7 linked regions of the Homo sapiens genome follow. The protein of the gene in region 4 purifies or fractionates together with the protein of the main gene of each other region. This does not show direct contact. Each region holds a gene or a part of one and is shown on either strand. Other genes may lie near its edges. The genes, in order: CTR9, ZNF33A, ARK2N, CDK11A, S100A7, ESF1 and GPATCH2L.

What was found.
Region 1: the proteins of CDK11A (region 4) and CTR9 purify together in Homo sapiens (affinity purification with mass spectrometry; 2 studies listed by BioGRID, with this or other methods). This does not show direct contact.
Region 2: the proteins of CDK11A (region 4) and ZNF33A purify together in Homo sapiens (affinity purification with mass spectrometry; one large-scale study listed by BioGRID and IntAct). This does not show direct contact.
Region 3: the proteins of CDK11A (region 4) and ARK2N purify together in Homo sapiens (affinity purification with mass spectrometry; 2 studies listed by BioGRID and IntAct, with this or other methods). This does not show direct contact.
Region 5: the proteins of CDK11A (region 4) and S100A7 purify together in Homo sapiens (affinity purification with mass spectrometry; one large-scale study listed by BioGRID and IntAct). This does not show direct contact.
Region 6: the proteins of CDK11A (region 4) and ESF1 purify together in Homo sapiens (affinity purification with mass spectrometry, with the first as the bait; one large-scale study listed by BioGRID). This does not show direct contact.
Region 7: the proteins of CDK11A (region 4) and GPATCH2L purify together in Homo sapiens (affinity purification with mass spectrometry, with the first as the bait; one large-scale study listed by BioGRID). This does not show direct contact.

What each region holds. Positions count from the first base shown.
Region 1 is NC_000011.10:10,757,746-10,761,245, forward strand, and holds part of CTR9 (RNA polymerase-associated protein CTR9 homolog), read left to right. Parts: intron 1-2,427; coding exon 2,428-2,576; intron 2,577-3,500. UniProt on the Homo sapiens protein: Component of the PAF1 complex (PAF1C) which has multiple functions during transcription by RNA polymerase II and is implicated in regulation of development and maintenance of embryonic stem cell pluripotency.
Region 2 is NC_000010.11:38,058,131-38,060,587, forward strand, and holds the end of ZNF33A (zinc finger protein 33A), read left to right. Parts: 3' UTR 1-1,957; downstream 1,958-2,457. UniProt on the Homo sapiens protein: May be involved in transcriptional regulation.
Region 3 is NC_000018.10:46,215,534-46,219,033, forward strand, and holds part of ARK2N (protein ARK2N), read left to right. Parts: intron 1-277; 5' UTR 278-347; coding exon 348-1,062; intron 1,063-3,500. UniProt on the Homo sapiens protein: AMPK substrate important for exercise capacity and skeletal muscle function.
Region 4 is NC_000001.11:1,714,358-1,717,857, reverse strand, and holds part of CDK11A (cyclin-dependent kinase 11A), read left to right. Parts: intron 1-1,379; coding exon 1,380-1,512; intron 1,513-3,500. UniProt on the Homo sapiens protein: Appears to play multiple roles in cell cycle progression, cytokinesis and apoptosis. The p110 isoforms have been suggested to be involved in pre-mRNA splicing, potentially by phosphorylating the splicing protein SFRS7.
Region 5 is NC_000001.11:153,457,852-153,461,820, reverse strand, and holds the start of S100A7 (protein S100-A7), read left to right. Parts: upstream 1-1,169; 5' UTR 1,170-1,213; intron 1,214-2,790; 5' UTR 2,791-2,807; coding exon 2,808-2,948; intron 2,949-3,850; coding exon 3,851-3,969.
Region 6 is NC_000020.11:13,767,920-13,771,419, reverse strand, and holds part of ESF1 (ESF1 homolog), read left to right. Parts: coding exon 1-89; intron 90-1,398; coding exon 1,399-1,513; intron 1,514-3,500. UniProt on the Homo sapiens protein: May constitute a novel regulatory system for basal transcription. Negatively regulates ABT1.
Region 7 is NC_000014.9:76,168,922-76,172,421, forward strand, and holds part of GPATCH2L (G patch domain-containing protein 2-like), read left to right. Parts: exon of another isoform or gene 1-2,277; intron 2,278-2,921; coding exon 2,922-3,098; coding exon of another isoform or gene 3,099-3,109; exon of another isoform or gene 3,110-3,500.

The sequences.
Region 1 (3,500 bases), on a different chromosome or scaffold from region 4:
CCTGCCCTCATGGAGTCCAGTTTTCAGTGGGCAAGATAAATAGTAAAGTATGTATGATGTGTAAGCTACCAGTAAGAGCCAAGGAGAAGAATAAAGCAGAAAAAGGGTATGAGAAGCATCAGGAATTGCTTAGAAAGGATGACCAAGGAAACTCATCAGAGATAGTGACATTTGTGTGAAGACCTAAAAAACAACTAGCAGCCATGCAGATATATAGGAGAAGACCACTCCTAGAGAGAGAGCATAGAAGGTACAAAGGTCCAGAGGAAAGAGAGTGCCTGGTAAGTTTAAGGAAGAGTAAGGAGGCCATTGTTTCTGGAATAGAGAGAGAAAGAGTTGGGGGGAAAGTAGTAAGAAATGGGGTCAAAGCTATAACCAGGGACTGACTAATCACGTAGGGCATCACAGATTATTGTAAGGACTTTAGTTTTTACATCGACAGAGATGGGAAGCCATTGGAGGGCCTTGGGCAGCAGAGTGACGTGATCTGACCTATATTTAAAAGGTTCGTTTGAGCTTTGGGGTTGAGACTAGAGTGGGGCTCAAGGGGAGGGGGTCAAGGACAGAAGTAGGGAGAGCAGGGAGAAGGCATCTGCAGACAGGCAGGTCAGAGGTGATTGTGGCTCACACTAGGGAGGTAATAGTGGAGTTGGTACAAGTGGTCAGATTCTACATGTATTTTGAAAGGAGAGCTGATGGAGTACCTATGATGTATAAGACAGAGAGGAAGAGTCAAAGATAACTCCCTTGCACAAGCAATTGGAAAAGTAGAGTTATATTTTACTATATTTGGGAAATAGTTTAAGTGGAACTAGTTTTAGACCTGAAAAGTTTGAAATACCTTTTAGACATATAAGTTGTCAAATTAAGCAGTTCAGCCTTAAAGCTTTTAGAGCTTTATCCTGAGCCTTGAGAAGAATGTGGCTATACAACCTGAGTCACGTGGCATGCAGTTGCAATTTCTGCCTTTTTTTTTCTGTAAACAATTAAGATCAAATGGTGCCAGAAATAAGATCCCCCTCACATGGAGCAATAAAATAATCTTTTTAGAATATAGCAATTTGTAACCAATCAAATTGCTGTGACATAGGCACCTGGTGTTATATTTTAGAATGTTACAATCCTACTAGAACTTCTCTATTTCCCCCAAATAATTAAAACCTTAACTTTTTCACTTTGGAAAATGCTGATATCATTCATTTGGAGTCAGTACTTTTCTGGTGGCCATTCTTACACCTTGCACTCCAATACACTCTATACTTAATCATATTTTCCAAATCCCGTTATTTAAAATTGACAAAGTGAAGACAGCAGAAAGGCTGGAATTCAGGAAAGAGGTCTGGGCTGAAGTCATCAACATATAGATAGTGTATAAAGCTGTGAATGAGTGCAAATAGAAAAGAGGTCTAGAGGTGGAGCCCTAGAGCACTCTGATATTAAGAGATTAGGGAAATGAGGAAGAATCAGCAAAGGAGACTGAGAAGATAATAGCCAGAGGTATAGGAGGAAAATAGGGTAAGTGCATTGTCTTTAAAGGCAAATGTAAAATGTTTCCAGAAGAAGATGATGACCAACAGTGTCAAATTCTGTTGTTAGGTCAAGTAAAATAGGGACACAGAATTGATCATTGGATTTAGCACCATACAAATCCATAGTGACCTTGATAAAAGCAGTTTTACTGGAATGGTGGGGTGAGAGCTTCACTGGAGTGTATTCAAGAGAAAATGGAAGGAAGGGAATTAGACATAGCAAGCGTAGCTAGATCATTCTGGGAGTTTTGCTATTGAAGAACAGACATGATCGACAACTGGAAAGGGATATAGAATCAAGAGAGGATTTGTATAAGATGGCAGAACGTTTATGTGTAGATGAGAATGAATGATCCAGTAGAGAGAAAAAATAGGGGAGGGTTGCTGGAGCAGTATTCTTAAATAGATAAGAGGGCATCTAGTGACCAGTATGGTGATTGGCTTTAGATGGGAACTTGTTTGTGTTTTGGCATGGCCTTAAATGAGGTAGCACATATGAGCATAGCTTTGAAAGGAACAATGGTATGTGCCCATAATCAGTCATATTATTTAAGGTCTTAGTGGAACTTTTGTTCTCTGTTTAAAAATTGTTCTTCAATAATGAGAAATTGAAGGTATGGTTAGCAGCGATGTTAGAAGACAAGAAGAATACCAGTATTATAGGTGTTCTGTTCTATAGTGAGAAATGTGTCAGTGATAGAGGAGAGGGTTGGAATATGGTATGATGTAGCCTCCAAGGAAACCAAGTTTGTGATAGGTCAAAAGATTCTGTAGTGTAGTTATACTGAGGTTAATTTTGGGGATTTTGCAACTCATAAATAGAGAATGTTTAAGCATTTTTGTAATTGAACTCTAAAAAATGCCCTAGTTTGATAGATTGAATGACTTCATTTTATAGCGGAAGTTCGTTTAGGAATGGGTCATTGCTTTGTGAAACTTAACAAACTGGAAAAAGCTCGTCTGGCATTCAGCAGAGCCCTGGAACTCAATTCCAAATGCGTGGGAGCATTGGTTGGACTGGCTGTTCTAGAACTCAACAATAAAGAGGTATGTAAATGAAAAAAGTATCTAGCTCCTAACTGCTTTGTCAGGCCCACAGCCTCTTATCTAAAACTCTTGGAGCCAGATGTGTCTTAGAAATTAAGATTACAGATTACAGAAGGGTACCTGTACTTTGTAATGTATAACACCTAGTTATTGGGGCACTACCCCAAAAGCAAACTTATATTTCTGTGGCAAAATGATAGACTGTTTACACTAGTAGGATAGGGTTACAATTCAGGTAGTATTGCCACCAAATAAGTTTGCTCCAAGATTACCAAAAAAAAAAAAACAGAAAACAAAACTTGTTTTTTAAGGCATTTAGATTTCAGAATCTCAGATAAGGGGTCGTAGACTTGTATATCAGTTTGGAATGCTTTCATTGCACGTAACAAAAAACACATCCCAGTGCCTTAAACATAAGGGCTTTTAGTGTTTACTAAACCAGTTGTCAAAGGTCTCAAATTTGATAGGTCCTTGTCGTCAAACCTATGATTTTATATAATTCCGTCCTCCCTTCCTTAATGTGCAGCCTTTCTTCATCATGTCTGTCACCTTATAGTCACAAGATGGCTGCAGCATCTCCAGCTTCTCATTATTACATCGGTCTTATAAAGAGGGAGGAAAGAGAAAGGATAAAAAGGCTTTCTCTTAGAGAAGCCCTGTCTTATATTGAGAAGGAAGCTCTCCATCATGCTTCCCCTTATGTATAATTGTCCAAAACAGGGATACCTGGGTTTCTCAGCCTCAGTACTATTGATGTTTTGGGCTGGATAATTCTTTGTTGTGGGGAACTGTCCCTTCCATTATAGAATGTTTTAACAGCATCCCGGGCCTCTACCCACTAAATGCCGATAGCGTTCCTCCAATTGTGATAACCAAACATGACTTCATCCCCAGTTGAGAACCACTACCTTAGGCCAGAGGAAA
Region 2 (2,457 bases), on a different chromosome or scaffold from region 4:
TAACCTGAAAAAACATTAGAGTAAAAATCATTGAAATTGAAAAGAGAAAATCGATAAAACCCAAAACTGGTTCCTTGAAAAGGTCAGTAAAATTGATAAACCTCTAGCTAGCTTAAGAACAAACAGAAGACAAATATTGCTAATACCAAAAATGAAAGAGGCCATCACAGCTAATCCTATGGTCACCAAAAGGATTAGAAAGAAACATGGACAACTCTGTCCATAAATTTGATAACTTAGCTAAAATGGACCAATTCCTTGCAAGACGCATTCTCTCAAAGCTCACACAAGATAGACCTCAATAGGCATATGTATCTATTAAATAAACCAAAGCAGTAATTAATAACCTTCCAAGGCCAGGTACAGTGGTTCATGCCTGTAATCCCAGCACTTCACTTTGGGAGGCTGAGGCGGGTGGATCACAAGGTCAGGAGTTCGAGACCAGCCTGGTCAACATGGTGAAACCCCCTATCTACTAAAAATACAAAAAATTAGCTGGGCATGGTGGCATGCGTGTGTAGTCGAAGCTACTCAGGAGGCTGAGGCAGAAGAATCACTTGAACCTGGGAGGTGGATGTTGCAGTGAGCTGAGATTGTGCCACTGTACTGCAGCCTGGGTGACAGAATGAGACTGCATCTCAAAAAATAATAATGAAACTTTCCAAAACAAAGTGCCAGGACCAGCTGGGTTCACTGATGTGTTTTTGAGATACTTAAGGTAGAAATGATACCAAGTCTCTACCATCTCTTTCAGAAAATAAAAGCAGAGATAACACTTCCCAACTCATTTTGTGAGGCCAGTATTACCCTAATAGCAAAACCAGGCAAAGATATTACAAGAAAGGAAAACTACAGATCAATATTTCCATTGAACACAGATGCAGAAATCCTCAAAATATTAGCAAATCAGGAATGCAAGGCTTGTTCAACATTTGATATTCAGTGTAATCCATTGCATGCATTAGCAGCTCAAAGATGAAATACGATCATATCAATAGGTACAGAAAAAGCATTTGACAAAATCCAATATCCATTCATGTTAAAACCTCTCAACACAGAAGGAATACAGGAGAACTTACTCAAGTTGGTAAAGAACATACTACAAAAAACCCTACAGCTAACATTATCCTTGATGTTTCCAACTAGACACTTTCCTACTAAGATCAGGAACATGGCAAGGAACACCACACCACTGCTTTTCAGCATTGTACTGGAAGTGCTATATAATGCAGTGTTAAAAAAAAAAGAAATAAAATGCACATAGATTTGAAAGGATGAAATACAACTTTGTTCACAAGTAACATGATTGTCTTTGTAGAGAATTCTAAATAACAAAAACCCTGCTGACATTAATAAGCAATTACAGCAGGATTGCAGGATACAGTCCTCAGGTAGATGATAAAAAGGAATTGGACATCAAGTCATTAAAAGACACGGAGAAACCCTAAATGCTTATTGTTAAGTGAAAACCAATCTGAAAAGGCTTTCTATTTTGTATGATTGCAATTATATGACATTTTGGGAGAGGCAAAACTATTGAGCCAGTGAAAGGACCAGTGGTTGCTGAGAGTTGAGGGGAAAGGAGGGATGGCAGGTAGAGAGGTGATTTTTAAGGCAGTGAAAGTACTCTCTAGGGTACTGTAATTTGTCAAAACGCAGAGAATGGAAAACAGTGAACGGAAAACACAGAGTAAACCCTAATGTCAACTCTGGACTTCAGTTAATAATAATGTATCACTGTTGGCTCATTAATTGTAACAAATGAACCATAATGATGCAAGATGTTAATGATTGGGGAGCCTGTGGAAGATGGGAGGGGAAAGGGTTATATGAGAATTCTCTATACTTTTTGCTCAACTTTCTGTAACCCTAAAGCTACTCTAAAAAATGAAGTGTATCAAGTAAATAAATAACCAACCAACCAACCCTGAGGAACATCTTGTTTCTGTACTAAGGTGTTCTTTTGTTAGTTGTATGTTTCTGACTGAACATGTAAATCATCATTAGTGAACAATTGAATTGCTTTTGTACATCCTTAATATATTTTAAATTATGGTAACTGTGACCTGAAATTAAGGACTAGTATTTTTGGTTCTCTTGACATCTGAAGCCAATAGGGCCTCAAATGACCTAACCTCATTTCCATCCCCACTCTGCTTCCACAGGTGAGGTAACTTAGCAGACAGTCCTCCTTGTCAGGGGGGCCAGGCACAATTCCTGCTTATTCCTAAGTAGTAAGATTTGCTTCCCTGCCAGCTCTTGGAATTATCACCAAACCCCTCACATCCTCCCACAGCAAACAGTGGTCACTGTACTCTGGATAATACAGCTGCTCGCCACAACCCCTCCTTTTCCACTCTGCTCCCTAGTCGAACCCTGTGTGGCTCTTCCCAGCATGTGGTGTCCTTCTCACCTTTCTGAGAGTTGGTGTGACTGACAAACTCACCTAGATCTTAT
Region 3 (3,500 bases), on a different chromosome or scaffold from region 4:
TAAATAAAATTGTAAACTTGAAAATGTTCATTACATGTTGGCCTTTCAAGTTAGAGGATTAATATTATGGCATTTTTAGTAGCTCAGTATGCTTAGATTTTGACCGTATTAAGTCCTTTGAATTTGACTGTTGATCAAACAAGCAGATAATAATATATATATATTTTAAAGGCCTGTGTAATAGTAAGTTTTGCCCCACCCACTTAGAAAGGTAGGCATGTTGTGTTGACTAAATAATCTGGCATTCTGTTTATTGACTTTGTGTGTTTTTGTACAGGTTGCTTTCCTGTTGCATCTTTGATATCATTTCCTAGACTCTACTCCATGATTTAACTTGAAATTCTGAAATGAAGATGGAGGAGGCAGTGGGAAAAGTTGAAGAACTCATTGAGTCCGAAGCCCCACCAAAAGCATCTGAACAAGAGACAGCCAAGGAGGAAGATGGATCTGTAGAACTGGAATCTCAAGTTCAGAAAGATGGTGTAGCGGATTCTACAGTTATTTCTTCAATGCCCTGCTTGTTGATGGAACTGAGAAGGGACTCTTCTGAGTCTCAGTTAGCATCCACAGAGAGTGACAAGCCTACAACTGGCCGAGTTTATGAGAGTGACTCCTCTAATCACTGCATGCTTTCCCCTTCCTCTAGTGGTCACCTGGCTGATTCAGATACGTTGTCTTCCGCAGAAGAGAATGAACCCTCTCAGGCAGAAACGGCGGTAGAAGGAGACCCTTCAGGAGTGTCTGGTGCCACAGTTGGGCGCAAGTCTAGGCGGTCCCGATCTGAAAGTGAAACTTCCACTATGGCTGCCAAGAAAAACCGGCAATCCAGTGATAAACAGAATGGCCGAGTCGCCAAGGTTAAAGGTCATCGGAGCCAAAAGCACAAGGAGAGGATCAGGCTACTGAGGCAGAAACGGGAGGCTGCTGCAAGGAAGAAATATAACCTGCTGCAGGACAGTAGTACCAGTGATAGTGACCTGACTTGTGACTCAAGCACGAGCTCATCAGATGATGATGAAGAGGTTTCAGGGAGCAGCAAGACAATCACTGCAGAGATACCAGGTAGAGGATGTTTTTTAAACTGACTGTAAAGTACCTGATGGCATTTCTCAGCTATCAGGTTCAGTTAGATGAGTGACACTTGAAAAAATCCAGGAGACCTGCAGCTCTGTGTAAATTTGAAGACTGCAGTCTATTAACAAGACATGGCCAATTTATAAAACCTGTTCTGAGGTTTCCAGTGAACTTTAGCACATCAGGAAAAACAAAATTAAAGGGTTAATGATAGGGACAAGATTATTTTTAAGTAATGGAATTTCTCATAAGTCTGTCTGTAACACATTACCTGAACTCCCAATCATTGCCTTTTTGGCACTGCTTAGATTTAATACTCACTGTTCGGCATCATTACTGAGTACATTCTCCTCAGGAATAGGCACCTTGCTTTATTATATAGCCACTGCACTTGAGCTTATAGTGTCTGAAATAACACATTCTATCTTTTGTTAAAGTTTTCTAATAATTTTTCCTCCAAAAACAGTAGTTTTATGTGTTTCCCCCATATTCAATGCATGAGAAGCTAGTTATCCTTGTTACAAATCTTTCTATCCTCACGTTGAAAAGAATGTCTTTCTGAAAAATTTCCCATTAGTTCCCCAAGTTTTAAAAAAGTTTGTTAGAAATCCGCTTGTTCTAGCTCTCATTGGTATAAGGGTCTGTAACTTATTACATATTTGGTAAATCTGCTTTCCCCATTCTTATTGCATCTGGTACTGTGTACTATAATACAAAGGCAGTCTTGAGATTTCATAGTGGAAGAAAGATGTATCTGAATGGTTCTTAAGTAGTGAATTCTTATTATCCAAGAGATCCTTACAATATGATCAGGAACATTTTGTAAACTGTATGGCATTGAATAGGTCATGGCAGTATTGTTTATTGCCACATTGAAGAGGGGCAAGTTTGGGTTTTCTAAAGTTTTATGGGTGACTATGTTTTTTCTCTCCCTGTTTTCTGAAAGCTTTCTGTTTCTACATGTGAAGACAGCATATTGCTGATATACAAAGAACATTTCAAGAGAAATCATATTGGTTAATGGAATCTATAGCTTCCCAAACTTATATAAATTCAGTAACAAGAATGATTGGTTTTAAAGCACTTTATAGGTGTTCAAGTTCTGATAATAAGTCTTGTCCATATAATATAAATATGAGTCTCAAACGATCTTTAGAAATGCTTTTTACTGTTTTAATATCTCTATTGGATTCCTTTGCTATTGTTCCTTGTAATAAAACTACCGGGAGGGGGATTTCAATGAAGCTCATCAGTTAAATGTATGAGAGAAACAGACTTTGGGGTTGTTCTAAGGCAGGTTTTAGGTATATATTTTAGTTTTACATGTATTAATATTTTTAAAAAAACCTTATTAATACCTGTAAAATTGTGCATTCCTATATCCTCTTCTAACCTCTTAATCAAGACCTTGATGGAACTCTTAATACAATACTTACTTCCACTTACTAAGCAGGATTTTATGTAACTACCCCAATACTTTGCCTTTTTGTGGAAAGGAAGAAGGTGGGTAAACAAAATTTAAAGTCAGAACCCTATTGTAAGGTGGCTTGAGAAATGTCTTCATAGGCACTTTCCCTGTTTTGCTTAAATAGGTTAGATGTGCTTTGTTCATATTTTCCTAATCTTCTTTCTAATTGAGTATCTTGACCACTGCTTAAAACTTAAAACACCAGTGTCTGTTTCTTGTCTCTTCTGAATTGTGTACTAACTGAACACCAAAGTAAATTAATTTGAATCTATAGTTTGGTTTCTATTGTTCACACCATTTAGTAACTTTGTGGCTTTTGAAAATACACATAGTTTTCTAAGGTAATCCTGGAGAATCAAATGGTAGATTGAGGTACAGGGTCACTGTATGTGACTGCCTGTGTGTGTGCTGGCAGTTTTGGGAGGTCTTATGGTATACCTGCCATTCCCATAAGACAGGTATGAATGATCTTTACTGGAATTATGCAAAGCAGCAAAAATGGAACAACTTAGAGTTCAAATATTAGGAATTTCATTTCAATTGTCCATATTGTTGTCTCTTGAAAAATTGTGACATTGTGAATTTTTAATGTAACAGTGATGTATCTTTCAGTTTACTGAGTCACCTTATGACTTTGGGGAAGAGAGGAGGCACGTTCAACCTTATAGTAAGAGCAGTTGTCGAAAAGTTGCCTAAATTGTAAAGGTAGGATAAATTATGAACTGACTTGAGTTCAACAACATGGACATTCAGGTGAACTTAAGCTGGATGGGCCTAACAGAATCTCTTGGATGTCGGAATGTTAATTCAGCTGTTTACACAGAATGGAAACCAAGTGGAAAAGTAAAAACCGATTATTGCCATACTCTTTCATTAAGGTACAACCAATTTAGTAATTCAGAAAATGCTCTTTATAAGCTTTTGTTTGGGCTCAGCTTAAAAGTTGAAGGCATTATCC
Region 4 (3,500 bases):
GACCGTTCAGAGGGGCTATAGAGAGGATACTCTAGCTGAAAGCGTGCGTGTGTCACAGACCGAAAACCAGAGAGAGCAAACTCTAGCTGAAAGCATGCGTGTGTCACAGACCGTTCAGAGGGGCTATAGAGAGGATACTCCAGCTGAAAGTGTGCGTGTGTCACAGACCGAAAACCAGAGAGAGCAAACTCTAGCTGAAAGCATGCGTGTGTCACAGACCGAAAACCAGAGAGAGCAAACTCTAGCTGAAAGCGTGCGTGTGTCACAGACCATTCAGAATGGCTAGTCCATTTTTCCTCTGGGGTTTTCTCTCCCCCATTATATTGTTTGGGAGCAGTTTGTTTACATTTAAAATGACCTGAATTCAACAAGTATAGGAGAAAAACACACCCCAAAATGGGTATTTGCTCAAGTCCAAAGAATGGGTTAGGCTTGAGCAGTTTGATCTCGTACCAACATCAGGAGATTCTTACGGGTGTTAGGAAAATTGGACCTGGAGCCCGATTGAAATCTCATTATTATAAATACGCTTGATTAATTAATGTGGCTTCATTGCACAGTGGAGAAGCCCACTGATAGCAAAGCTTTGTTCTGTAGTCTTTGTGAAGAGTGGTTTTTGTATTATAAAACTGATAATTATAGTTTATTCAGTATAGAAAATTTTTAAAAGATGAATATTACAATTCTCTTCTGTGATAGCAGAATTGTTTTTCTTTTTTCTTCTTTCTTCATAATTAGACGCTTACTGCAGATAGTTTTCTATTTTCAAAGTTTTTTATTTAACATAAAATCATGATTATTCGACTGGGTGCAGTGGCCCAGGCCTGTAATCCCAGCACTTTGGGAGGACAAGGATGGAGGATCACTTGAGCCCAGGAGTTCAAGACCAGCTTGGCCAATATAGTGAGACCCTGTCTCTTCAAAAAAAAAAAAAAAAAGATTAGGATTACTTAACATCATTATTTAAATATTTAATGTTCTTGATTTAATTTCATTTTCATGTGATTTTTTTTTTTTTTTTTTTTTTTTTTTTTTTTTTTTTTGAGATGGAGTCTCACTTTTTCGCCCAGGCTGGAGTGCAGTGGCACGATCTCGGCTCACCGCAACCTCCACCTCCCAGGTTCAAGTGATTCTACAGCCTCAGCCTCCCTTAGTACCTGGGATTACAGGTGCCTGCCACCACGCCCAGCTAATTTTTGTATTTTTAGTAGAGACGGGGTTTCACCATGTTGGCCAGGCTGGTTTTGAACTCCTGACCTCAGGTGATCCACCCGCCTCGGCCTCCCAAAGTGCTGGGATTACAGGCGTAAGCCACCGTGCCCGGCCTCGTGAAATTTTTGAAGTGAGGTTTCTTTGCATGACACTTTATTTCTCATTAGGGAAGCATGCTAGAGTGAAAGAAAGAGAGCACGAACGTCGGAAACGACATCGAGAAGAACAGGATAAAGCTCGCCGGGAATGGGAAAGACAGAAGAGAAGGGAAATGGCAAGGGAGCATTCCAGGAGAGAAAGGTGAGTGGGCTGGGTCAGTTGAGGACTTTATGAAAGGGCCGTGGTAGTGTGTCCTGTCACAGCAATGAAGAAGAATTTGGCAATAGAAGTCACATTTGTTGCAGAAGTGGTAGACATGGAAACAGCACAGTGAACGCTGGACGAGGCTGACCAAGAGAACTGTCCTGAGGGAGTGAGTTTTCACTGCATCTGGAAGTAAGAACGGGTGTGATTTGATTGAGGGAAGACAATGAAGGGATCAGAAATCTGCACGTCCCGCCGGGCGCAGTGGCTCACGCTAGAATTCCAGCACTTACGAGGCTGAGGTGGTTGGATCCCTTGAGCCTGGGAGGTCAAGGCTGCAGTAAGCTATGACCATGCTACTGCACTCCAGCCTGGTTGACAGAGTGAGACTGTCTCAAAAAAAGGAGAAGGGAGATCCCAAAAACCTTGAAACAGTCTGGAAATCGGGACACTGGACTCCTAGGACTCCTGGCCATTAGTCTGTATATTCGTTCCCCTTTATGAGCCAGATTCCCAAGAAAGAACATCGGTGTAGCCCCAGATCTGTTCTGTGAACCAGGAAAAAGGCTGTAGGCCAGGTGCGAGCAGGCCCATCTCCGCCTTCAGAGTGAGTCCACAGAAAGCTTGCAAGCTGCTCCAGGAAGAGAGGAGTCTGAAGCGGAAGGGCGTGTGCAGCGATGTTTGCCAGCAGCCAGGGCTGGGTACACAGCATGTAAAGATGATGAGAGGGCGCTGGTTCTTGTTGATGCCGAAGGGTGTGGGAGACACTGAGGCCCAGGGGTCAAGGTCCGAGACCGCTGCTGGGTGAGCAAGGTTTCAGTTGGCCTAGTTCCTGTTAGTGTGTGAAACATTCATGTATGCCACGCCCTGTGCCAGACATTGAGTGTGTCTTGTCCCACGAGAGTAGAGCTTGGGATAGAAGTGGAGGTTGGTAGATGAAATTTGGGCTGTCATATTGATTTCCCAGAAGGTAAAGACAGGAGAGTGAATGAACAAAAATTGTTGGGGGCAGACTTCTGGGTAGGGCCGATTCAGATCAGCCAATCCAGAACTGGGTGTGGTAGCATATGCTACGTGGGAGGCTAAGGCCAGAGGACCGCATGACGCCAGCCTGGGCAACGTAGAGAGACCTTGTCTCTGACAAAAAGGAAACTGATAAGGATAATCTGAGAAGCACTGATGCTTGGAAAACTGCTGAGCTGTGGGTAAAAGCAGTAAGAATCTGACCTTCTGGCCTGAGAGCTGCTCCCTTTACTGCTTCCACTCTGCACTTGGAAGCACGGAGGTTCCACTGGGACAGGGCAGCTGCAGGACCTGCAGTTTCCTTGCTGCCTTGGAAGGGGTTACTCCGTTTAGAGCAGTGGGCAGTGGCCTTGCCCACCAGCATCCTCAGTGGAGGGAGGAAAAGGCCAAGAGGTCTGCTAGAATGAAGTACAGTGTGGTTGGGAGCAGCTGTGATCCCGCCAAAGACGTGCAGCAGAGACTGGAGAGAGCTCGAGCCGCCACCCACTTGTGACCAGCCCTGAGGATGCAGCTGCGTGAAAGGACCTAGCAGAAAATAGAAGCCGCCACAGATGCGAATGACGCCTGAACGTTCAGTGTGCTCCCTGTCCACACACAGCCGTGGGCCAAGGAAGCCTTACTGTGCTCGAGGTATTTGAGCCCAGCCTTTTTCCAGTGCTGGCTAATTGCTAAGCTGTGCAGCCATGGTGGTGACCCCTAGGAAGCCAAGGTTGAAAATTAAAATAGGCATGTGGGAAGGAACGGGGTGGCCATGAGCTATGAGGGAGATGGATTTCACGGACAACCAGACAGGCCTTGGTGGTAACAACGAAAGGGAAAACTTAGAATCCAGAATTGCTACAAATGTATTATCTAAAATACAAAGAAGTATGACAGTGTGACCCGTACTGAGGAAGAACATCATCAGTAGAAACTGTCTTGAGTGTCCAGATGTTGAATTTAGTAAAGGCTTGGAAACAACT
Region 5 (3,969 bases), about 150 Mb from region 4:
TCCCACCTAGGGAGACATCACATCAGCTCTGTGGAGCCCCAGAGTGCTTAAAGGGCTGGCACTAAATGAACCTGGAACTCTCTTGCACCCTAAAAGGAACATTGCAAGGGGGTAGCAGAAAAAGTCCATTTCAGTGATTCATCATCTCCCTTTCCTCACCATGCCCCAGGGATTCCCATGCCTTCCCAACCCTCTTGCCCCTACCTGGGTCAGCCTTTCCACAGCAGGTTAGGGCACATTATAGCCAAGGGCACAACTCCCAACTCCTACACAGGCTGTTTTGCATAGGAGGAGGAAAAACACTGAAGACTTTCTGGGAAGTTAGTGCCATGGGGCAGGAAAGAACTTTTCCCACTCCCTGCCTCCAGGCTCATTCCATGGGGGGGTCACTCCACCACTCAACCTAGATAGTGAGGCCCCTGACCCCAGTCCCCCCACCTAATTCCAGGGCTTCTGTGAGGGGCTGACCAATGGTTAGCAATGAAGTAACCCTGCTTCCCTCCCTGGACTTTGAGTTCCCATAGGGCAGACCCTGATGTGACCCAAGACCTATAGCACAGGGGATAAGAGTAAGGATTTGATTCAGGCTTTTCTGAGTCCATATAATGATTTGTTGTGTTTACTAGCTGAGTAAACTTGGGAACATCTCAACTTCTCCTTTCCTAAAATAGAGATTGAAGCACCTCTTAGGACTATGAGGGTTGAGGAGGATGCAGGAGCAGCAGGTATCTTGATATCTAGACATTAAAATGCTCAGTCAGCGGTGGGGGTCATAGAACAGGCTGTCATAACAAATGTGTGGAAGGATAAGGGGAGGGAACAAACAAGACCATGCTGCCTTCAGGAGTCTGAAACTCCATCCTCTTTGGGTCCAGAGGCCCAGTGCTCTTTTCTCCCATTTTCTGACCTGCTACTACACATGTACCGCTGCCTTACCCTCAAATCAAGGTTGAGCCAGAGAAGACTCCAGGTGAGGTCTCTGGGGTGGGGTGGGACCTGGTGACCTGGGACACTGGCCAGAAATCCTGAGCACAGCCTCCTGGGTGTGTCCCACCCACCTGATGTGGGGCAAGCCTCCAAGAAACAGATGACAGAGGTGGCCCCAGGCCTCCCAGCCCCTGGGAAGAGCCAGGCTGAGCCTTATAAAGGACTGCTCTTTGTCCAAACACACACATCTCACTCATCCTTCTACTCGTGACGCTTCCCAGCTCTGGTAAGTCTCACCTGCCTCTTTGCGTTTTCTAGAAGTGCCCAGTGCCTGGCCTGCCATGCTGCCTGTAGGAAGGGAAAGGGCTGTGGACAAAGACTCAGAAGCCTGGGTCTAGGCCAGCTCTGCCATTAGCTGGGCTGTGTGACCTTCACTTGACCCCAAAAGCCCACGTCTGTATAACCAGGTGGCTGAACCAGACCTGTCCATTGCTCCTTTGGGATCTCCTGAGGCAACTCCTGTGGAAATGTCCCCAGTGGGACCTGAGCACAGGACCCTCCCTGTCCTCTTCCTCCCTGGATTCATCCTCCTGTTGGGGTCCCGGTTGCTAAATCCCCTCCCCAGCTCCAGCTCCACAGAGGGTGGAGGGCTAGGGGTCCCCTGTGAATGCTTTGGAGGCTCTCCAAACCCCCAGGCCTGGGACCCCGACACAGCATAGCCCTGGCCAGATGGCTTGCCCCTACCTGGGTAAGGTATTGAGAAACCAACGCTCCGTCACTCCCTACCACAACCTGCAAATTGTCAGTCACCCTCTGGGCACAGGGCTTGCCCTCTGGCCTTGGCCTCAGATTCAAAAAAGCTCTGGGTGGCTCCTCTTAGTCAGTTGCCGGCATGGAGCTTTCTCCTGCATTGAGAGGTGTTGGGGGTTTATTGTCAGACACCCATATGCATTAGCCAAGGTCCTTTCCTGGTTCTTTGGAAAGTGTGGGAAGTGAGAACTGCACTGTCCTATTTTTCAGGCTTGGGGTGCAGGCCAGCCCAGACTGACTACTGGCTGAAAGATCTGCTTTGGGAAGTCAGACATTTTTATTTAAACAGTCAAGGCTTGGTGATTCAGAGGGTGCAGATAATTCCCAAGAGCAGACATGAAGTGACTCCCACCTCACTCCCACCCCGTCCAGCAGCTTAAGAACCAGAGAGTTATTTCTGTTCCTTGTAACAGAGGCCATTCCTGTTTCTCGTTCCCAAGGGAATACAAGAAGGGCCCCCTGTGCTCGGGACAGGACTGTGTTTCCTGCTAACACTCACGTCCACGCTCACATGTGCACCTGGAGCCTGCACACACCGTGTCATGCAGGGCTTGCACTTGAGTCAAGGTGGGGCCCACGGTGTCTGGTTCCTGAAGCAGCCGAGGAGGGTCAGACACCAGATCACCAAGGCCATTGTCCTGCCCCCATGACTGTCACCCCGACTGTGAAGCTGGAGGAGATGGATTTGGTGCTCTTTTAAGAGTGGGGTCTGCCATGTGCTGGCTGAGGCTGGGGTGTCCCAGCTTAGTTCTTCCATGTGTTGCTGGCGCCCGACTCTCCCTGCTTCTCCCTCTCTGAAGCACTGTCCACAGCTGGACTTCCGCCATCCACCTGCATCTCCTCTTGGCCCTGGCCAGGATGGGCCAGGTCTCAGACTTGGTCCTACCCTCTCATTTTTGAGCAACTTATCCCATCACATTAAAAAAAAATTGAGTTCGTTCTGCTACACCTTATCCGTGTTTTTACTCTGTCCTCAGCCCTCCTTCCAGCACTCCCAAATAGAGACCCTAACTTAAATGAAGGGAAAAAAATGATTGTCTTTATTTCCTGAAGGCTTTTTGAAAGCAAAGATGAGCAACACTCAAGCTGAGAGGTCCATAATAGGCATGATCGACATGTTTCACAAATACACCAGACGTGATGACAAGATTGAGAAGCCAAGCCTGCTGACGATGATGAAGGAGAACTTCCCCAACTTCCTTAGTGCCTGTGTGAGTCGGTGTCTAGCTTCTCAATGTTGGAGGATACATTTTGCTATGTGGCCTTGGACAGATCACCCTCACCCTCTGATTAAAAAATTTCCCATTTGCAAATAGGGCTTTATTACTTGGATCATATGTGAATCTAAGGATGGTAGGCAAAAAAGTATGAAAATGGGAAAGAGTTATACAGATATAAAGGAGGTTATTAGATGGTCAGCAAAGTGTGCAGCTTGAGGGCAGTGCACAGTCCCCTCCCAGCACTCACTGACCCTCTCTCTGTGAGACTGAAACTCACATGCTCAGGTCCTGTTTCCCAAAGGCCCCACATCAACATCCCTGAGATTACTGGGAAAGCACTAGAAGTTCCATTGTTAGTAGAAATCAATAGCCCTCTTTGCAATAAACAAGACTCATTAGCAAATCTGAAAAAAAACTGTGGGCTACTAGGTACCAAAGGGTCTAGATGACCAAGAGTAGGATACCCAGAAGATGAGTTTGGTGGAAAAGGAGAAGAAAGGAGAGGAGGCCAGAGAAAGAAGAGAACAAAAGCATGAGGGCCAATTTTGAGGCCCTGGGGTAGAACTAAGGTAGGCAGTGCCCTTAGAGGCTGGGACGGGAAAGAGTGAGGCTGGGGCAGGGGACTGCTCTCCCCAAGGTCACTTAACAGAGCACCTTGGGACAGGACCTGCCTCCCATCCTGAGGTGTGAGACAAAAAGACTCCCTAGAGAACTCCAGGGATAACACTCACGTCCTCACCCCAACTTCACCCACTCACCCTGTGCTCTCAGCCCCGCCACCATGCCTGTGCAGATCTAGGTACTTGTCTGTATCTCTGCCTCCTCCTCTCCCTCCCAGCCCAAAACTTGTTTGTGATTGAATTTTTCTATTTTGTATGTTTTTCTCTTCACAGGACAAAAAGGGCACAAATTACCTCGCCGATGTCTTTGAGAAAAAGGACAAGAATGAGGATAAGAAGATTGATTTTTCTGAGTTTCTGTCCTTGCTGGGAGACATAGCCACAGACTACCA
Region 6 (3,500 bases), on a different chromosome or scaffold from region 4:
GACTGTGATTCTCCGGAAACAGCTAGTAAAATTTATGAGGATTGTGATGGCCTGGAATTTGAAAGTAGTTGTTCTTTCATAGATCTAAGGTAATCCAGTGTATGTATTACCAATTTAATCTTTTAGTACAACATGATTATAAGAAGTAAAATATTTGAACTGGTAGTGATCTCTGTTTTATATTCTAAAATGATTTTTTTGCTTTTCGGTTAACTCTATCCCATGGAACATCACTCCTAAGAAAGAAAACAAACAAGACAGTGCTAAAGTATTATGTATGAATCATCCCCACATCTTTGTCCTTTCAGACATATTGGCTCTGTTTTTAAGATGGTGTACCTTACACAATAATATTTCCTTGCAACTGCTTTTAGAGCTAGGAACCAGATGAAGTTAACTTTTAAAAATGCATGGAGGAAGGGGCAGAGGAATTTGAAAACAGATTGTTATCTCTAGATCCATGCTATCCAGTATAGTAGCCACTAGTCATATTTGGTTATTTTAGTTAAAATTTATAAGTCAGTTGCGTAGTCATATTTCAAATAATTGTTCCATTTTGGACAGAGCAGATATAGAACATTGCCCTTGTCACAGAAAGTTCTGTTGGACAACACTGCTCTAAATGTAAATGGCTAAATGTACAATTAGGAAATTGTAAGACTCAACCTTAAGCTTTCCCTTGTTTTCAGTGACACCTCATGTATATGATACTTTGTATTCACAATGCTTACCCATTAATAATTATATTTGATCTTCAAAATACAATATAGCCAGCTGGGCATAGTAGCTCACGCCTATAATCCCAGCACTTTGGGAGGCCTAGGCAGGAAGATCGCTTGAACCCAGGAGTTCAAGACCAGCCTGGGCAACATAGTGAGACCCTGTCTCTACAAAAAATTTTAAAAGTAAAAATTAGCCAGGCATGTTGGCGCACACCTGTAGAGGATCGCTTGAGCCCAGGCCGTTGAGACTTCAGTGAGCCATGATTATGCCATGGACCTCCAACCTGGGTGATGGAGCAAGACCCTCTCTGTAAAAACAACAACAAAATCATGTAGTCAATGACTGCACTATCAGAAGTCTGGATCTTTTTGAAACGTGAGGGACCCACATGTGCTTGCACCTGACTCATTAACTGACTCCTAATGCACGATTTCTATCTATACAGCATTCTTTTAAATTTAGTGGAATTACAGAGTTATAGCTTATGAATTTCAGAAATTTATACAAAGATGAATTCATTCAGAAATATACAAAGGTTATGTCTAACATTGTCTCTTAAACGTGTGTCTTTTAGAAAGTTTGTGTATGTATAAACTACAACTAATTAGATGAGAATCTAAACTGTGGTTATCACTGCAGCGTATTTTAAATAAATTTTTTTTCTTTACTTCTTAGGTTTATACCAGATGATATTACTTTTGATGATGAGCCTAAGGATGTAGCCTCAGAAGTGAATTTAACAGCATATAAACCAAAATATTTCACTTCTGCTGCAATGGGAACATCAACGGTATTTCTTTACTTTAAAAAATATGTAGCTGGACTCTATTGCTTTATGAAGAGATTTTGTATATTACTTATAGCATCTTTAAAAATGGAAAGTATTAATTTTTTTGTTATTATTTTTTCTTGAGACAGAGTCTCGCTCTCTCACCCAGGCTGGAGTGCAGTGGTATGATCTCAGTTCACTGTAACCTCTGCCTCACAGGTTGAAGCGATTCTCGTGCCTCAGCTGCCCAAGTAGCTGGGATTACAGGTGTGTACCACTACACCTGGCTAATTTTTGTATTTTTACTAGGGACAGTGTTTCGCTATGTTGACCAGGCTGGTCTTGAACTCCTGACCTCAAGTGAGGCCGCCTTGGCTTCCCAAAGTGCTGGGATTACAGGTTTCGTGAGCCACTGCTCCCAGCCTCAAAGTATTCAAAATTTTTAATGCATGGGTACAGAGAGAAATGAGACACAAGCGTGTCTGCCTCTACCATATCTGTGAACCTGTTTTCAGATTCTTGTTACGCATTTAAGCCTGTGTCAGTTATCTGCTGATGTTTCTTTTTTCTCTTCTGTCTTTCCTGTACACTCTTCTGTCTCTCCTATACACTCTTCTGTCTTTCCTATACACTCTAATAAATCAGTTATTAATATCCTAAGGAATAAGGGGAAGTGGATAATAAATTACCTCCCCGCACAGTTAAATGAAACTAGGGAAAATTTAAAATAAGAGTATCTCCTATACACTCTAATACATCAGTTATTAATATCCTAGGGAATAAGGGGAAGTGGATAATGAATTACCTCCCAGCACAGTTAAACAAAACTAGTGAAAATTTAAAATAGGAGTACCTTTTTCTGCAGATGATTCAAAACTGTAAAAAGAATTGATATGGAATAATTAAGGTATAATAGATGTCACATTAATGCTTAGTAACAAATAGCCAAAAGGTTTTTGTCTATTGAAATAGTTTATTACTTAGGTGACTACCTTCTCCCTTTTCCTTTCTTTCTTTTTTTTTTTTTTTTGAGACTAGAGTCTTGCTCTGTCGCCCAGGCTGGAGTGCAGTGGCGCGATCTCTGCTCACTGCAACCTCTGCCTTCTGGGTTCAAGTGATTCTTCTGCCACAGCCTCCCCGGTAGCTGGGATTACAGGTGTGTGCCACCACACCCAGCTAATTTTTGTATTTTTAGTAGAGACTGGGTTTCACCATGTTGGCCAGGCTGGTCTTGAACTCCTGAGCTCAGATGATCCGCCCCCCTCTGCCTCCCAAAGTGCTGGTATTATAGGTGTGAGCCACTGCGCCTGGCCCCTTCTCCCTTTTCTTTTTTTTTGCTTTTTTTGGAGACTGAGTCTCACTCTGTCGCCTAGGCTGGAGTACGGTGGTGCAATCCTGGCTCACTGCAACCTCTGCCTCCCAGGTTCAAGTGATTCTCCTGCCTCAGCCTCCTGAGTAGCTGGGATTACAGGGGCACGCCACCATGCCCAGCTAATTTTGTATATTTAGTACAGACGGGGTTTCACCATGTTAGTCAGGCCGATCTCGAACTCCCAACCTCTGGTGATCCACCCGCCTTGGCCTCCCTTCTCCTTTTTCTTTCTCCCAATAACCTTTCTGTCCACAGCTGTACTCTGCAGTAGCCACACTAGCTTCCCTCTGCTTTTCCTGTGTGATAAATCACCGTGCTTCTCTGAGGAGGGACTGGTAGCAGAGAGAGTAGCTGTATCTGCCACCTGCTATGCCGTGGTGGGCACTGTATGGCATTGATTAGTTACTGGGTGTAGTAAAACTCTACCATTACATAGTAAGCAAAGTCTAAAAAATTCAGTCACATGAAATTAAAGTCATGTTATTTTCAGAACCAACATAATGATCAGGGCCAGCCTGTCCAGCCAGCCAGTCTAAAGTTCCTGGGTCCTGGCTGTATCATCAACATCTGTCCTAGTTCCAACAGTGTTTTGGTGGTTATCAGCTCAGGCTTAATTGTCAGAATAGGGATCATTTC
Region 7 (3,500 bases), on a different chromosome or scaffold from region 4:
GAGGGCCACCACTCTTGTTTGGCAGCCTTCTTTTATAACCACAGTTCTTTGGGTTCTGATAACCATTCTTTCCCTTGCCACTCCAAGTCTAGGAATGGTAAGGGCCTCCTGCTGTGCTGGCTCCACCTGATGTGCTTCACTATCCCCTTGTGGGGTTCCTTGTTAGTACTGTCTCCACCTTTGTGAATAGTCACTTCATTACATCTCTGCAATGACCCCATTTAAATGTGCCATGTGTTTGCTGAGGGGGTTCTGGCCAATAGCCCTTTCTCCTTTGTTCTCTGTGGCTCCTTGTATTATACTTACTGTTTCTTTTACTACTCACTAGATTATGTTATTGTTTGTAGGTACGAGTCTTTTCCCTTGAGGCTTTTCAAGGCAGGACTTATTATGTGCAACCACAGTACCTAGCATGTTCCTGGCATATAGTAAATGTTTAATAAATAATTATTTATAATCCAATTAAGGGGAAAACTCTCCTTTTTTTCCCCCAAACAAAATCGAACATAGATTCTCAGATTGTAAAACAACTAAGCCTATTTGGTTTAAAGCAAAATTCTAGAGGAGCCAGAGGTCAGGAGCCCGATCCACCTAGCTTCTTGCTTATTCCCTGGCAGCGCTCTTTTAAGGAGCTCCTCTATCAGGCATCTTAGTGAACCCTGATTGAAGACTGCTGGTCTATGTGGTCTCACAACGTTCCTTCTAGTTCAGGGAGTCCCTTTTTGTATTATTAAAAATCTTGAATGACTGCTTGAGAACCAAAAAAATTCCATTATAGTTTGCCATTTGTCGTCAGAAAACATGGCCTAATTAAATATACTATTTCAATAAATGGCCTAAGGAATGCTTATGAATAAGAAAAGAATTAATATATTGAAGTACAGAGAAACTAGTTATTATACACTAATGCCTGTATTCAGTTCATCTATGTATCTGGTTTCGTGAGATGCTTTTAGAGTAGCGGTTCTCAAAACGTGGTCCCCAGGCCAGCTTGGCATCATGAGGGAACTTGTTAGAAATACACATTTTTGGTCTTGCCCAGACTAGAATCAGAAACTCTGGAGTAAGGGCTCAGCAGTCCATGTTTTAACAAGCCCTCCTGCTGCTTCAGATGCATGCTCAAAGTTGAGAACTACTGTAAGAGAGACAGCTGTTTGTGGTGTGTTTTTATAAGGGAACACTTTGAGTAACTTTCTTAGTTGTAATATCTCCTGCTTTTCACCAGAATGCAGTTTTCATTGCCCATTTTGGAGATCTCCACAGTGATTTAAGAGTTATTATCCTGCGTGTTAATGACCCATGAATCTCATACTTCATGGGATTGACATTTCTGAGCAACTTGTCTGGAATCCAGTGTACATTAGAGACTGACTACATTATGAACTCTTTAGATATTCTTGTAATAATTTCCTTCAATTTTGCTATTTTGCAAGGGGTATGTGGTGGCAGACATACAATTATCTATTCTTTGTTGGCAGGAATAAACTCTAGTGGAAACTGAGATACTATCACTATAGCCAGTAGAAAGAAGTTTGTACTACCAACAGTCTGGATATATGGATCTGGTTGTGACTTTGCTGTTAATTAACAAATGGCCTTGGGAAAATGGTATAACTTATTGAAAAGCCTTAGGGGATTATGTTATTTGTTGCTGTGGTTATTTTTTTTTTCCGCAGTAGCTTGGATTTCTAGTGTCAAGATGATTTCTGTCCCATTAATGAGATACCAACGATAAATGAAGTATGGACATATATTCTTTATTCACCTTTTATGATAAAGGCAAATATAGCAAGAAATCCCTCAGGTATAGCTAGCTTTGAATTGAGAAACATTTATGGGTTTTGAACCTCCAAGTTTATACCACTGAGAATGGTATAGGGGAGGCAGTTTGTTTTTGTAATAAAGATCTCAGGCTTTTGAGTTAGTCAGGCTTTGGGTTCAGATCCTGGCTTCATTGTTTACTAAATTGACCTTGACTTCTCTAGGCTTTAGTTGCCTTGTTTGTAAGTTGGAGTTAGTGTAGGGCTTGGAAGAGATGACATATTTACAGATTTTTAGCATGGATCCTGGTAGGTTGTAAGGGTTTAGTGAGTGGTAGCTTTATTTATTTATTTTTAGCTATTAAAGCGGTCCAGTCTAACACAGTATGACATTTATGTGAAACCAGGTTGGTGTTCCAGTTTTCATTGTAAAATGAATCAAGAAGGACCAGAACAATGCCTTGATTTATTTAAAAGTATAATCAGCCTGTAATTCCAGCACTTTGAGAGGCTGAGGTGGGTGGGAGGATTGCTTGAGCCCAGGAGTTCAAGAGCAGCCTGGGCAACATAAGGAGACCCAGTTTCTACAGAGAATTAAAAAAAAAAAAAAAGACTGGGCGCGGTGGCTCACGCCTGTAATCCCAGCACTTTGGGAGGCCGAGGCGGGTGGATCAGTTGAGGTCAGGAGTCCAAGACCAGCGTGGCCAACATGGCAAAACCCCGTCTCTACTAAAAAAATACAAAAATTAGCCAGGCATGGTGGCGGGCGCTTGTAATGCCAGCTACTCAGGAGGCTGAGTCAGAGAGAATTGCTTGAACCCGGGAGGGGAGGCGGAGGTTACAGTGAACCAAGATCACGCCACTGCACTCCAGCCTAGGCAACAGAACAAGAATCCATCCCCAAAAAAATAAAAAAATAGCCAGGCATAGTGGCATGAGCCTGTGGTTCCAGCCACTTGGGAGGCTGAGATGGGAGGATTGCCTGAACATGTGATTACGCCACTGCATTCCAGCCTGGGTGACAGAGCAAGACTCTGTCTCAAAAAGGAAAAAAAAAAAAAAGGATGATCAAAACTATGGCACTAAGAAATCATCCCTCCCATTTGTTTTTCTCAGACCTTGTTTAAAATTCTAGCTTATGATATGATGTCTTTACTTTAGGTGATGACGAACAGAGTGATTGGTTCTATGAAGGAGAATGTGTCCCAGGATTCACTGTCCCTAATCTTCTGCCCAAGTGGGCTCCTGATCATTGTTCTGAAGTAGAAAGAATGGATTCTGGATTGGATAAATTTTCAGATTCCACATTCCTTTTACCTTCTCGGCCAGCTCAAAGAGGTGAGTTCTGAGGAGACCAAGAACTTAATGCTTTTATGGTTCTCCTTGGGCAGAGCAATCACCCCCTAGCAAGCATACTCATGCCTTCAATCACACATTAACTATCTGAATTTTGGAGCTAGCTCAAGGATTTTCTAGAGGAGTCAAAGTAAGTCTCAAAGCTTAAGGTTCTCTCCATTCCTTCCTAAACTAATCCATGGAAACTCCTGGGACATATATATTATCAGGAGATTCCTTCAGCTTGCCATTGCCGTTTGTGCCAGATTTAGTGACAGCTGCTTATCCTGATGTGAAACTAAGAGGTTATTGAGTATCGGATTTTGGAAGAGAACAGATTTCAATAAGAACATTCACATACATATTCTTATTTTCAGTAAGAGTATTCACATATAATGGTGTTTT